2 separate regions of the Homo sapiens genome follow, and region 2 is linked to region 1. Evidence: fine-mapped expression QTL. A gene starts in region 1. The other region holds a variant in brackets. All regions are shown on one strand. Distances are between the middles of the regions.

Region 1 (5,369 bases):
TCCAGGCCAGATTCTGCCAGCAGTAAAGCCAACACTCAGCCCCATCTGTAGGACTCCTGCCTGCCTGCCTGCCCGTCTCTTGGTGGGTTCCAAAGCCCAACGACATAATTATCCCCAACAAACCAACCCCGACTCCACTCTTCTCCCAGTCCAGGTCCACCAACCATGGTGGCTTTTCGGGAAAGTGCGTCTTGATGGATGGGAGCACTAAGGAACCTTCTGCAACTGCTGAAGTGCACACTGTGCCTAAGAGACAATAACTACACAAGTCATCCTTTCTAACATCCTTGGAATTCATAACATCAAACATTAAAACAGTTCAGCTCTCTTCTAGTTTTTCCAAGATGTGAACAGGAACGTCCTGTGACTAGGAATAATGAAAGGACATTTGGTGCATACAGCACTCTGAAAAAAGAACAAGTGAGTTAGTTAAAAACAGCACGTCAGCCCGCCTGTGTTGGAGAGAGGAACAGACTGTCCAGGAGAAACACCAGTTACCTGCGGGACGTCATCAAACAGTCGCTGAGCAAAATGGGAAAGCACGTCGTCCACGGACTTCCCGTTGCCAAAATGGATCACTGCGCCTGTGGCTTCAATGGCGGCCACACGGACCTTCCAGTGCTGGTGGGAGATGGTCTGCATCAGGGGCCCGATCAGAGACTCCGACTGCATGTGGAAGTGGTCTGAGGGACAGGGAGGCCCCCAGTTACCAGAGCTGCTCCCACACGCCTCGCCCAGCTCTGTGGGCTTCCAGAGGACGGCTGCCTGCCTATGAGTTCCTCACCTCCCTTCCTCTCCTACGCCAGGTCCTTGCTGCATGAACAGTACACAATCCAGGCTGCCAAGGAGAGCTCTGTACCGCCCGGCACAGGAAGAGGCTCAGGGACAAGCGTCCCACCCTGATGACACCTGTGCAACCCAGAGGCTTAGGAGGACCAGCGGGGAAAGGCTGGGGGTGCAAACCCATTGTGGCTGAAGACCAGAGAGCCTGGACCTGCTGAAGCCAAGGTGGAGGCCTGACGGGGACACTGGCCAGAGGAAAGAAGCCGAGCCCAGAAGACAGAGGCGAGGCCACACTCCCAGCCCCACCTGAGACGAGACCCCAGGCTCCTCCAGGAAGCTGGGCCAGCACCACTCCAGGCAAAGCCACTGCACTTCCTATTTGTAAAGTCCCCGCAGAAAGTCAGAACAAGAGGTGGCAGGCGCCTGTAATCCCAGCTACTTGGGAGGCTGAGGCAGGAGAATCGCTTGAACTCAGGAGGCGGAGGTTGCAGTGAGCTGAGATCGCCCCACTGCACTCCAGCCTGGGAGACAGAGTGAAACCCTGTCTCAAAAAAAAAAAAAAAAAAAGTCAGAACCAAAGGGTCTCTGGCATCCAGGCCGCCTCTTGCCTCAGCTCTGCACTACTTGGGGCCCGTCTGGGAAACGGCTATTCCAGTGAGACTTTGGGTGAGCGCCTCAACCTCTCTGCCGTTGCCCAGTGTGACCGAGACCAGAGGTGAGGCCCCCCACCCAGGGGAGAGGAAGGCCAGAGGTGCTGGAGATGAGGGGATGCTCCAGGCAGAGGCACAGTCCCTCACCCCACAGCAACCAGTGAGCACATACCCCAGCAGGCTGCGCTTGGGGCTGGGGCACAGATGGGCACAGTGCTGTCCTGTGGAACCTACGGTCCAGGGAGGGAGCTCGTGGGGCTGATGTACAGACTGGGTAGGGAAGTGGTTGAGGATGAAGAAGAAATACATTAAATGCCAGGAATTCTCAATGGCCATGTCCATCCAGCCCAAGGTTCTTCCCCAAGCTCCACAGGAGTTCTGGACCATGTGAAATCCAAAGTTAACCAACGTGGAAATCTCGGCATTTCCCCAAGTCCAGCTCTTCCTCTACTTCTGGAATCTATTCTCCACGCAGCTGCAGTGATCTTTTAACAACCTGAACTCGGGTCTATCACTTCTATTGACACCCCCTGCACTTCCCACTACATTCAGACCATCACTGGGACATCACTGGGACGGCCTGAGCTGGCCAGATCCCTCACTGCTTTCCTGCTCCCTACCGCCCACGGATTTATAGCATCAGTGTTCCCTCCTTCGGAAAGCCTTCCCGCCAGCAGGAAGCAGGCGCCTGCTATCATTCCACATCCCAGCCAGGGGAGGGAAAGGGCAAGACCCTGCAGGAATGGCCAGCTAAGGAAAGGGAACGACCGGATCAGATCAGAGCTCTAAAAAAGATGGGGAACGTTATAAAGTGGAGGGGAGAAGCGGCCTCCTTCCACTTAGGACAGTGGTCCAAGCCAGAGCGGAAAGGCAGGGGAGTAGGATGAATGGGACAGAAAGTGAAATGACCAGAGCAGAGTCTCAAAGCGCGTGCCCTCAACCAGGTGCAAGTCCTGCAAGCCCCCGAGGGAAGGAAAGGGGGCAGCTATCAGGGCACACCCCACCCCAAACCGCCTAACAGGAATTTCTGCGGTGGTTTCCAGGTATCTGGACAGAAGCGCTGGCTCGTGGGCCCGGGTGGGGTGGAGGGGGCTCAGGCAGGGAGGAGGGTGGGAGGTGAGGGTCGCGGGAGGGCGGCGTGCAAGGAGGAGGATGGCACAGGATAGGCAGGTGGAGGGGGCACAGGGAGCAGGCAGGTGGGGGGCGGGGCTTGGGGCGTGGAGGGTGGAGGCGGGGAGCAAGGGGACAGGGGAGTGAGGTGAGTGAGGGCCAAGCAGGAACAGGGGTCACGGGGCAAGGAGCACGTGGCAGCGCAGGAAACAGGTACATGGGGGTAGAGGACAAGGGAGCAGCTGAAGGGCGCGTTGGTGGCGGGACGTGAGGCAGGGGAAGCAGTGGTGGTGGGAGGAGGGGGCCGGGCGGGGTGCTTTGGGGCAGGCGGGTGGGGGAAGCGGCGCATGGGGGGTCCGGGATGTTGGGGGGTGCGGGCGTGGAGGGGGGCGGGGCCGAGCCGCGGGGGTTGTGAGAGGGGCCGCGGAGGTGGAGGTGGGGGTGAGAGTGTGGGGTGGCGTGTGGGAGCGGGGCCCGGGGTGCTCACCGGGCGTGGCCTGCGCCAGGGCGGCGGCGCAGCTGCAGCTCTCGCGGCGCACGGCGGCGAAGGGGTCGAGCAGGGAGCAGCGCAGCGCGCGCAGAGCGTCGTCCAGGTGGGGCGCGAGCGCGGCGCCGCACAGGTCCACGGCCAGGCCCAGCAGCTGCACAAGCGCCAGGCGCAGCTCCTCACAGGCCTCGGGCGGGCGGCGCGCGGGCACGGGGCCGGCCAAGCGCGCGGCGAGCGCGGGCAGCAGGCGCGGCAGGGCATCGCGGGGCCGCGCGGCGCGGCGCAGGCCCAGATCCAGCAGGTGCACTGCCAGCGCGCGGCAGCCCTCGGCGGGGTCGCTCAGGCAGCGCAGCAAGCGCGGCAGCAGTAGGCGCGCCCAGGGGCCCTGGAAAGCGGTGGGGTCGGCGGCAGGGCCTGGCTCCTCCAGCGCGCGCCGCAGGGCCTCCAAGGCGCGCCGCCGGCCCGGCTTGCTGTCGGCCTCCAGCCCCGGCAGCAGGCGGCTCAGGGCGCGGCTCAGCTCCACCGCCTCAGCCGTCTCGGCCCCCTCAGCCGGGTGTGGGGCCGCCACGGCCTCCGCCACCCCCAGCGCCGCCATCTTGCCCGCGTCGCCGGTCACTAAGGGGAACAGCGCTTTCGCGACTCTCAGCGCAGATTACGGCAGCACTTCCGGTCCGCGCTGCGGGCGGGGCGCCGGGCTACTTCCTCCCCGCCGGTGCGCACGTGGGCCTGTGCTCTTGTCGTGCTCGCCCGCTGTCCCCCTCTGTCGCCGGAACCCCCGCCAGCCTGCCTGCTGGGCCTTGTCCTGTCCCCATTGTACAGATGGGGAAGGTCTCGGGAGGGTGCAGCTCGCCCGGGATGCGGGTCCCGGGCTATAGGCCTGGGCCTGCCCCTAGGGAAGCCTGCCCTGCAGCCTAGGGGGCTTGGAGAAGGAACCTGAGTGGTCCCGCCTGGGACCAGGGTAGCCGGGAAGCCCCTGTTTGAGCCGCCTAGAGCCCCTCTGGCTTTGGGAAGGTCCGTTCCAGGAGGGAAGGACGCTGGTTCTGTGGACTGGATCCCCCTGTGGTGTAAGACAGGTGCCTGGTCTGGGCTTCACGTGCAGCCTGTCATTAGATCTCAGGCGTAGCCGCCCAATAGGTTCGCCTTACTCGCTGCCCAGGTAGAGCCAATTTATCAAGACAGGGGAATTGCAATAGAGAGTTTAATGCATGCAGAAACTGGCTGCATGCAGAAACTGGCTGCATGCAGAAACTGGCTAAAGGACACTGGAGCTTTATTGCTCAAACCAGGTTCTGAAAATCCTGAGATGGGTCATCTAAGGATAATTAGGCAGGTAGGGGGCCAGGGAGAGGGCAGTGCTTATTGGTCGGGTTGGAGATGAAACCATGGAGAGTCAAAGTTGATTCTCTTGCTGTCTTCTGTTCCTGGGTGGGATCACAGAACTGGTTGAGCCAGATTAGTGGTGTGGGTGGTGGCACCTGGTGCATCAGAATGCAGAGCCTGAAAAATATCTTGAGCACCAATCTTAGAGTTGATGATAGTGGTGTTATCCTAAGGAGCAACTGGGGAGGTTTGGAATCTTGTGGCCTCTAGCTGCATGACTCAAACCACAATTTCTAATCTTGTGGCTCATGTGTTAGTCTTACAAAAGCATTCTGGTCCCCAGGCAAGAAGGAGGTTGGCTTCAGGAAAGGGCTGTTATCATCTTTGTTTCAAAGTTAAACTATAAACTAAGTTCCTCCTAAAGTTAGCTTGGCCTACTCCCAAGAAATAACAAGGCAGCTTGGAAATTAAAAGCAAGACAGTGTTTCACAGTAGTGACCTTGACTGTGGACTTGAGTGGAGACAGAGGCGCCTAAACAGCTTGGAGTCGGAGTTGCTGTGAGCCCAGCCTAGAACGCGAGTTTGACAGCACTCACTGCAAACCAGGAGTCCCCAAGTCTGGTTAGCCAGGCACTTCTCATCTGTGACCATGCACTGAGTTTTCTAAAGGCAGAATGTGTGTAATTTTAGGACAGAACTTCAAGTTTGACCTTCTTTTTTGTTGTTGATCTTCGTGTTGCAAAATGGTGGTGTTTGTCGGTACGTCTTTTTTTTTTTTTTTTGAGATGGAATCTTGCTCTGTCGCCCAGCCTGGAGTGCAGTGGCGCGATCTCCGCTCACTGCAGACTCTGCCTCCCAGGTTCATGCCATTCTCCTGCCTCAGCCTCCCAAGTAGCTGGGACTGCAGGTGCCCACGACCACGCCCAGCTAATTTTTTGTATTTTTAGTAGAGACGGGGTTTCACTGTGTTAGCCAGGATGGTCTCGATGTCCTGACCTCGTGATCCGCCCGCCTCAGCC
Region 2 (5,369 bases), 110 kb after region 1:
AGTGGATGGAAAATGACCGAGAGGAAACACCAGGGGCTGGGGGGTTCTGGCTTCACTGACCTAACAGGATTGTTGCTGAAGAGAGGCCAGGGTGACCAGACATCCCCCATGGGGTGGTGGGTGTGAGGAGCCTGATCAGACACTGAGGATGATCAGATATCAAAGATGATCACATATTGATTATGGTGGGTGATCGGTTCTGGCTGAACTGATTTGGCAGGATTATTTTACAAGGAAGTACAGATGGGCCTAGAAGAAGGTTCTGGAACCTGACTAAAGTTTGGCCAGAGAGAGAATTGTTGTTACCACATGTTTGTGGTTAGGAACCAGACCCACAGTCAAGAGTGTGGCCGAGGGTCCCAGGGGATTTGAGAACACCGTGCTGTTGGCACCCCAGCCGGGAGCAGGAGCTCTGCTTTCCATGATGCCAGGACTGAGTTATTGCTATTTAGAGAGAATTTTTTGGAAACTTGTAGTCAACAGAGTCACGGAACAAGCCTTCACCTAAACAGTGGAAGAGGCTAAACACAAGCCAGGATGCTGTGTCTGGGGCGCTGGGATCCCAGCAGATGGGAACCCTGGGTCTTGGGCTGGGACAGAAGAGATAGGACCGTGATGCCAGCACCCAGGGTCTGCCCAAGGGTTTAGGCCACTTCCTTTCCTTAAATAACATTGACCTAAGGTTTAAATCCGCAATGGAGAGAGGTTCTTCCCCAGCGAGGGCAGCATGTCTAGGTCTTTCAGAACCACTTCTAAAGGAGGACAGACTGAGCAGGCCACTCTTTCCCCCTGGATAGCGTCATGTTGAAAAACATAAGAAGTCAGAAAAACATATTAGTATGCGCTGGAACAAGTGTTCTGCCTTCAGCGGGGTCCTTTTTGGTAAATGTTCTGTTTTCTTCACTCATCATTCCCGTCTGCTCCTTGTCAATACACATATGCACATTCTCTGCAGACCTACTGTTGGTGCATATGTGCCTCTGTGTGTTCTGCTCTTTGACATCATGGGAGGGGGAATAACAACCCGTGTCCTGACTCTGACATCCCCCTTCCATCCCTAGGAAGGTTCAAAGATTTTCAAAATAGAGAGTTGAAAAAAACTAAAGATCAGACATGTTGGAAGTGCTAATAACTCAGTTTGCCTTCTTTATTACTGGATACGATCCTAGCACATTCATGTTCTCCCAGGTCAATGTCATGATGCTTTTGTTTAAAAGTCACAAAAATTCTTTATTTCTTTTAGCCTCAGGCAGACATTTCTAACATACAGAAATGCAGATTGTTGGAGCGGGAGGAGTGAGCGGGAGGCCCTGTGTGGCGCGGGGGTCCTTGCTGCCACCCCTCACCTCGCTGCTCTTCTGAATGCATGCCCAGCCTTGGCAGGCACCTGGTGCTCGGGTCTGAGGTGCAGCTTTGAGGGGCTGTGGGTGCCCATCCTTTCTGTTGTCCCCCTTAGGTGGCCTCGGCTCTGAGAACTGGCTGAACCTGTTTGCTTCAGCAGGTTTCTTTGCATGGGTGAGGGCGGGGAGGTGTTTACCTGTCAGGCCACCTCTGGCTGCAGTTCCACAATATATTAGCAATGTAAGCCAACAAAAAGGAATAAAAAAGCCAGAGTGGTGAAGAGACTGGCTGAGATCGGGGCATGGGCCGCTCCATTTGCATCACTCCTGGGGGATTCTGGGACATGTGTGACCCTTCTAGCAGCACTGGGGGAGCGGCTGCATGGGGTTTGGAACCAGCAGACACTATGGCAGCAGCTGCTGACCGTGGGAGCCCCTTATTCTGCTGAGTGCTTCACAAGCCTCATGATCACTGAGTCCTCCCTGCTGCTTTAGAGGCTGAGAGTGTTACTGTGCCCATTTTACAGATGGCTTAACTCTTCAGAAACTCAGTCCCCTGGGTCCCTCCAGGCAAGGTTGGGACTTGTACCACACATGATGAGGTGATGGCCAGGAAGCATCTGTCATGGGGATGACCCCACCTGCTGTGACATCACCCCACACAAGCATCTGTCACCACTGCTCAATAGTGAGCCCCTTAGGGAAGGGTTGCAAACTCGGGATCCTGGGGGTTCAGGAATTAAGTGGAAAACGTGGAGTCCTTGGGAATTGTGGCAGATTGGAGATGGTCATGCTCCTTCCAAAGTGGGGGTGAGCTGAATTCTTGCTTTGGGAGTACAAGGTCCCTGTGTTGTCAGACTTTTCTTTTTATTTTCTTTTTTCA[A/G]AGGAAAGCCAACAATTTGGATTTTATGAATTTTGTAAATTTTTAAATATTGGGAGATGATTTTGAAAATACCATCAACATTGGCACATGAATAAATAGAAAACCTGAAGAGATCTAGAAGCATTAAGTAAGTTGAAATGGTAACCAAAGACCTTTCCTCCCAAAGGGTTCTTTCTGATGGTTTCACTGGTTGAGTTCTTTCAAACATCAGCAAACTGTCTATTCTTACTTCTCAAATTGCTACAGAAAATAGAAAACAAGAGGAAGCTGCTAGATCATTGTATGTACTGTACTGTGATCAGGTGGAGATGATCCAGAATTCAAGGATGGTTCAACCTCAGAATACTCTATCCATGTAAATCACCATATTAGTAGATTGTAGAGAAAGAGCATGTGACATGTCACATAGGTGTTGGAAAAGGTTTTGACAAAGCTCAACAACTATTGCATAAATTCTTAGCAAACTAAGAATAGGGTCACTTCTTAACTTGGTAAAGGTCATACATACCCAACACAGAGCAAACATGCTAATGGAGAATCTTTGGCTACATGCTCTTTAAGGGAGGGACCACAATGAGGCTCTGATGGCTTTCATGGTTTAACTGTGCTTGGGAGGTCCCGGCAATGCTATAAAGAAAGAAAAATAAGAGGAGTCCTAATTGGAAGGGTAGAGAGAAGATGAATTTGATCATGTCTATGGAAACCAGCATAGAATACACAGAACAACTCTTACATTCTTATGAGTGTTCAGCAGGGTTGGTGCAAGCTCAACTTACAAAAATCATCATTAAGAAGCCCAAGGAATCCATAAATAAATATACACAATTTTTCTTTGTCAATTTAAAGAAAATTTAAAAATACGGATTCCTTCCCATCACAATGAAGATATTAAATCTGTCTCAACAGAAAGAAAGAGAGAAAAAAAAGAGCCCAAGGGGCTGGGTGGGTGCAGGGAATGAGAAAAGAGACACAGATGAGGAGTAACTGGAGAATAGAATTTGAAAGGATGCCATTCATGAGGGCAACAGCCACTGAGAAGTGGAATGTGCTTGACAACAGATTACAGAAGACTCTAGGGAGGAAGTTTTAAACCTCTATAAGGACATAAAACACGATCTGAATAGGGAGAGGCGGTCTGTATTCTTGGGTGGAATGACTCAACGTGATGATGTCATTTCTCCCTCACATTAATCTCTACCTTCAAAGCAGCTCCACTTCAAATTGCAGCTGGAATATTGTGAGGCAGTAAACACATTCGGAAATGTGAATGAGCTGGGTGCGGTGGCTTATGCCTGTAATCCCAGCACTTTGGGAGGCTGAGGTGGGAGGATTGTTTGAGCCCAGGAGTTTGAGACCAGCCTGGGCAACACAGAGAAACCCCATCTCTAAAAAAAAAAAAAAAAAAAGTAGCTGGGTATGATGGCATGTGCCTGTAGGCCCAGCTACTCAGGAGGCTGAGGCAGGAGGATCACTTGAGCCCAGGAGTTCGAGGCTACAGTGAGCTATGATCGCACCACTGCACTCTAGCCTGGGTGACAGAGTGAGACCTTGTCTCTAAAAAACAAACAACAAAACAAAAAACAAAACAACAGAAAGAAAAAGGAAAGGAAAGAATAAAAATTTGCAAATAACTAAGTCATCTTTGAAACAGAAGCACAAAGAAGAGGGACTTCTCCTACCAAGAGCTGAGGCTCAGCAGGAGGCCTTGATCATAAATGGAGCCAGGTGCCCTGCAGGAAGGGACGGCAGAACAATGGCGTGGGGCCGAGAGCTGAGAGGAGGTGCAGGCACACATGGGAGCTCCATATTTAATAGATGCAAGAGGTAGTTTAGTGCAGTGGTTAAGACAAGGACTCTGGAGCCAGATCACCCGGTTTTGAATCCCAGCACCACCATTCCTTAGCTGTGTGACCTTGGGCAGGTTCCTTAACCTCTCTGTGCTTCTGTCCTGCTCCCACTTGTATGTGAGGATAAGGGGAGTGATGATCATATATGCCACAAGGTTGTTGTGAGAATTAAATGAGCAACTGTGCGTAAAACACTGTGTTAGTTTCTAGGGCTGCCATAACAGAAGGACAAACTTGGCCTTAACAACAGTGATCAAGCGTCTCATGCTTCTGGAGGCCAGAAGTCCAAGCTCAAGATGTGGGCAGGGCTGGTTCCCCCTGAGGGCTGTGTGTGGGGATCTGGCCTGGCCTCTCCTTGGCTTGTAGGTGCCGTGTTGCCTCCCTGCTGTGCTTTCGTCCGACTCTTCGCTCTGCGTGGACACTGTGTTTTCCCTGTGTGTGTCCAAGTCTCCTCTTTTTATAAGGACACCAATCATATTGAGTTAGGGCCAACCCTACTCCAGTAGGACCTCACTTTTTTCAAGACAGGGTCTTGCTGCCAGTCTGTGGTGCTCTGTGATGGCAGCCCAGGCAGACATGTCGGAGAGTATTTCATTACTTGGTTGTGGGGAAACACTTTCTTAAACAAAACCCACAAAGCACAAACCATAAAGCAAAAAAGAGGTTACATCAGATGAAAGATGTCTACCTAATTAAGGACATCATGAAAAAGTTAACAGGTGACTGCGTGTAAGAAGATAGTTGCAATATCTAAACCCGACAAGCAACCGGTATCTAAAACACACAAGGAATTTCTGCAAATCAGCAGGAAAGAAGGTACCAACCCTTCTATCAAGATGGGCACAGGATATGAACAGGAAGTTTACAGAAGAGGAAACACAACCAGAGGAGAAGCCCTTGAAGAGCAGCTCAGAGCTTAGAGATCAGGGAAATGGAAATGCAAACAAAACGGCAGTTCAAAGCCGCAGCCCCAACGTGTCAGGCAATGTGGTGACGTGGGTAGATCTAGAGTATGTGGACTCCTTGAAGAAAAAGAAGAAACAGCATGAAATCTGCAGCAGGATACCATTTTTTGGTTAAATGCACATAGCTTAAGATTCTATGTTTTAAGAGAAAACATACAAACGAGAGGGGAGACCTCAAGTATCTTATAGCAATTGCCCACAGACCGAGAGGGCTATGGGAAGAGAGGAATAAATGTATAGGCAAAACAAGAACAGATCACAGAGCGGCATGAACTGAGTGCTCCATATTTACATCTGGGGTTTAAAGAAAAGATGTTGGAATAGGATGTCCCAC

The links. PIP is the estimated chance that this variant, and not a neighbour inherited with it, causes the effect.
Region 2: its variant is fine-mapped to the expression of PRKAR1B in whole blood (TOPMed, PIP above 0.99).

The regions. Positions count from the first base shown.
Region 1 is chr7:724,977-730,345 of GRCh38, reverse strand. It overlaps PRKAR1B (protein kinase cAMP-dependent type I regulatory subunit beta), which reads left to right and starts at 3,065. Exons shown (of 11, transcript NM_001164760.2): 1 at 3,065-3,136. It overlaps DNAAF5 (dynein axonemal assembly factor 5), which reads right to left and starts at 3,647. Exons shown (of 13, transcript NM_017802.4): 1 at 3,031-3,647; 2 at 499-683. The coding sequence starts at 3,625. RefSeq lists silencers at 2,785-2,864, 2,905-3,014, 3,075-3,124, 3,375-3,574.
Region 2 is chr7:618,278-623,646 of GRCh38, reverse strand. All of the region lies in intron 4 of PRKAR1B (protein kinase cAMP-dependent type I regulatory subunit beta), which reads left to right. Among named protein-coding and RNA genes, the nearest start is that of PRKAR1B-AS1, 18 kb to the right of the region's middle. The variant A/G (reference allele first, on the strand shown) is at 2,224.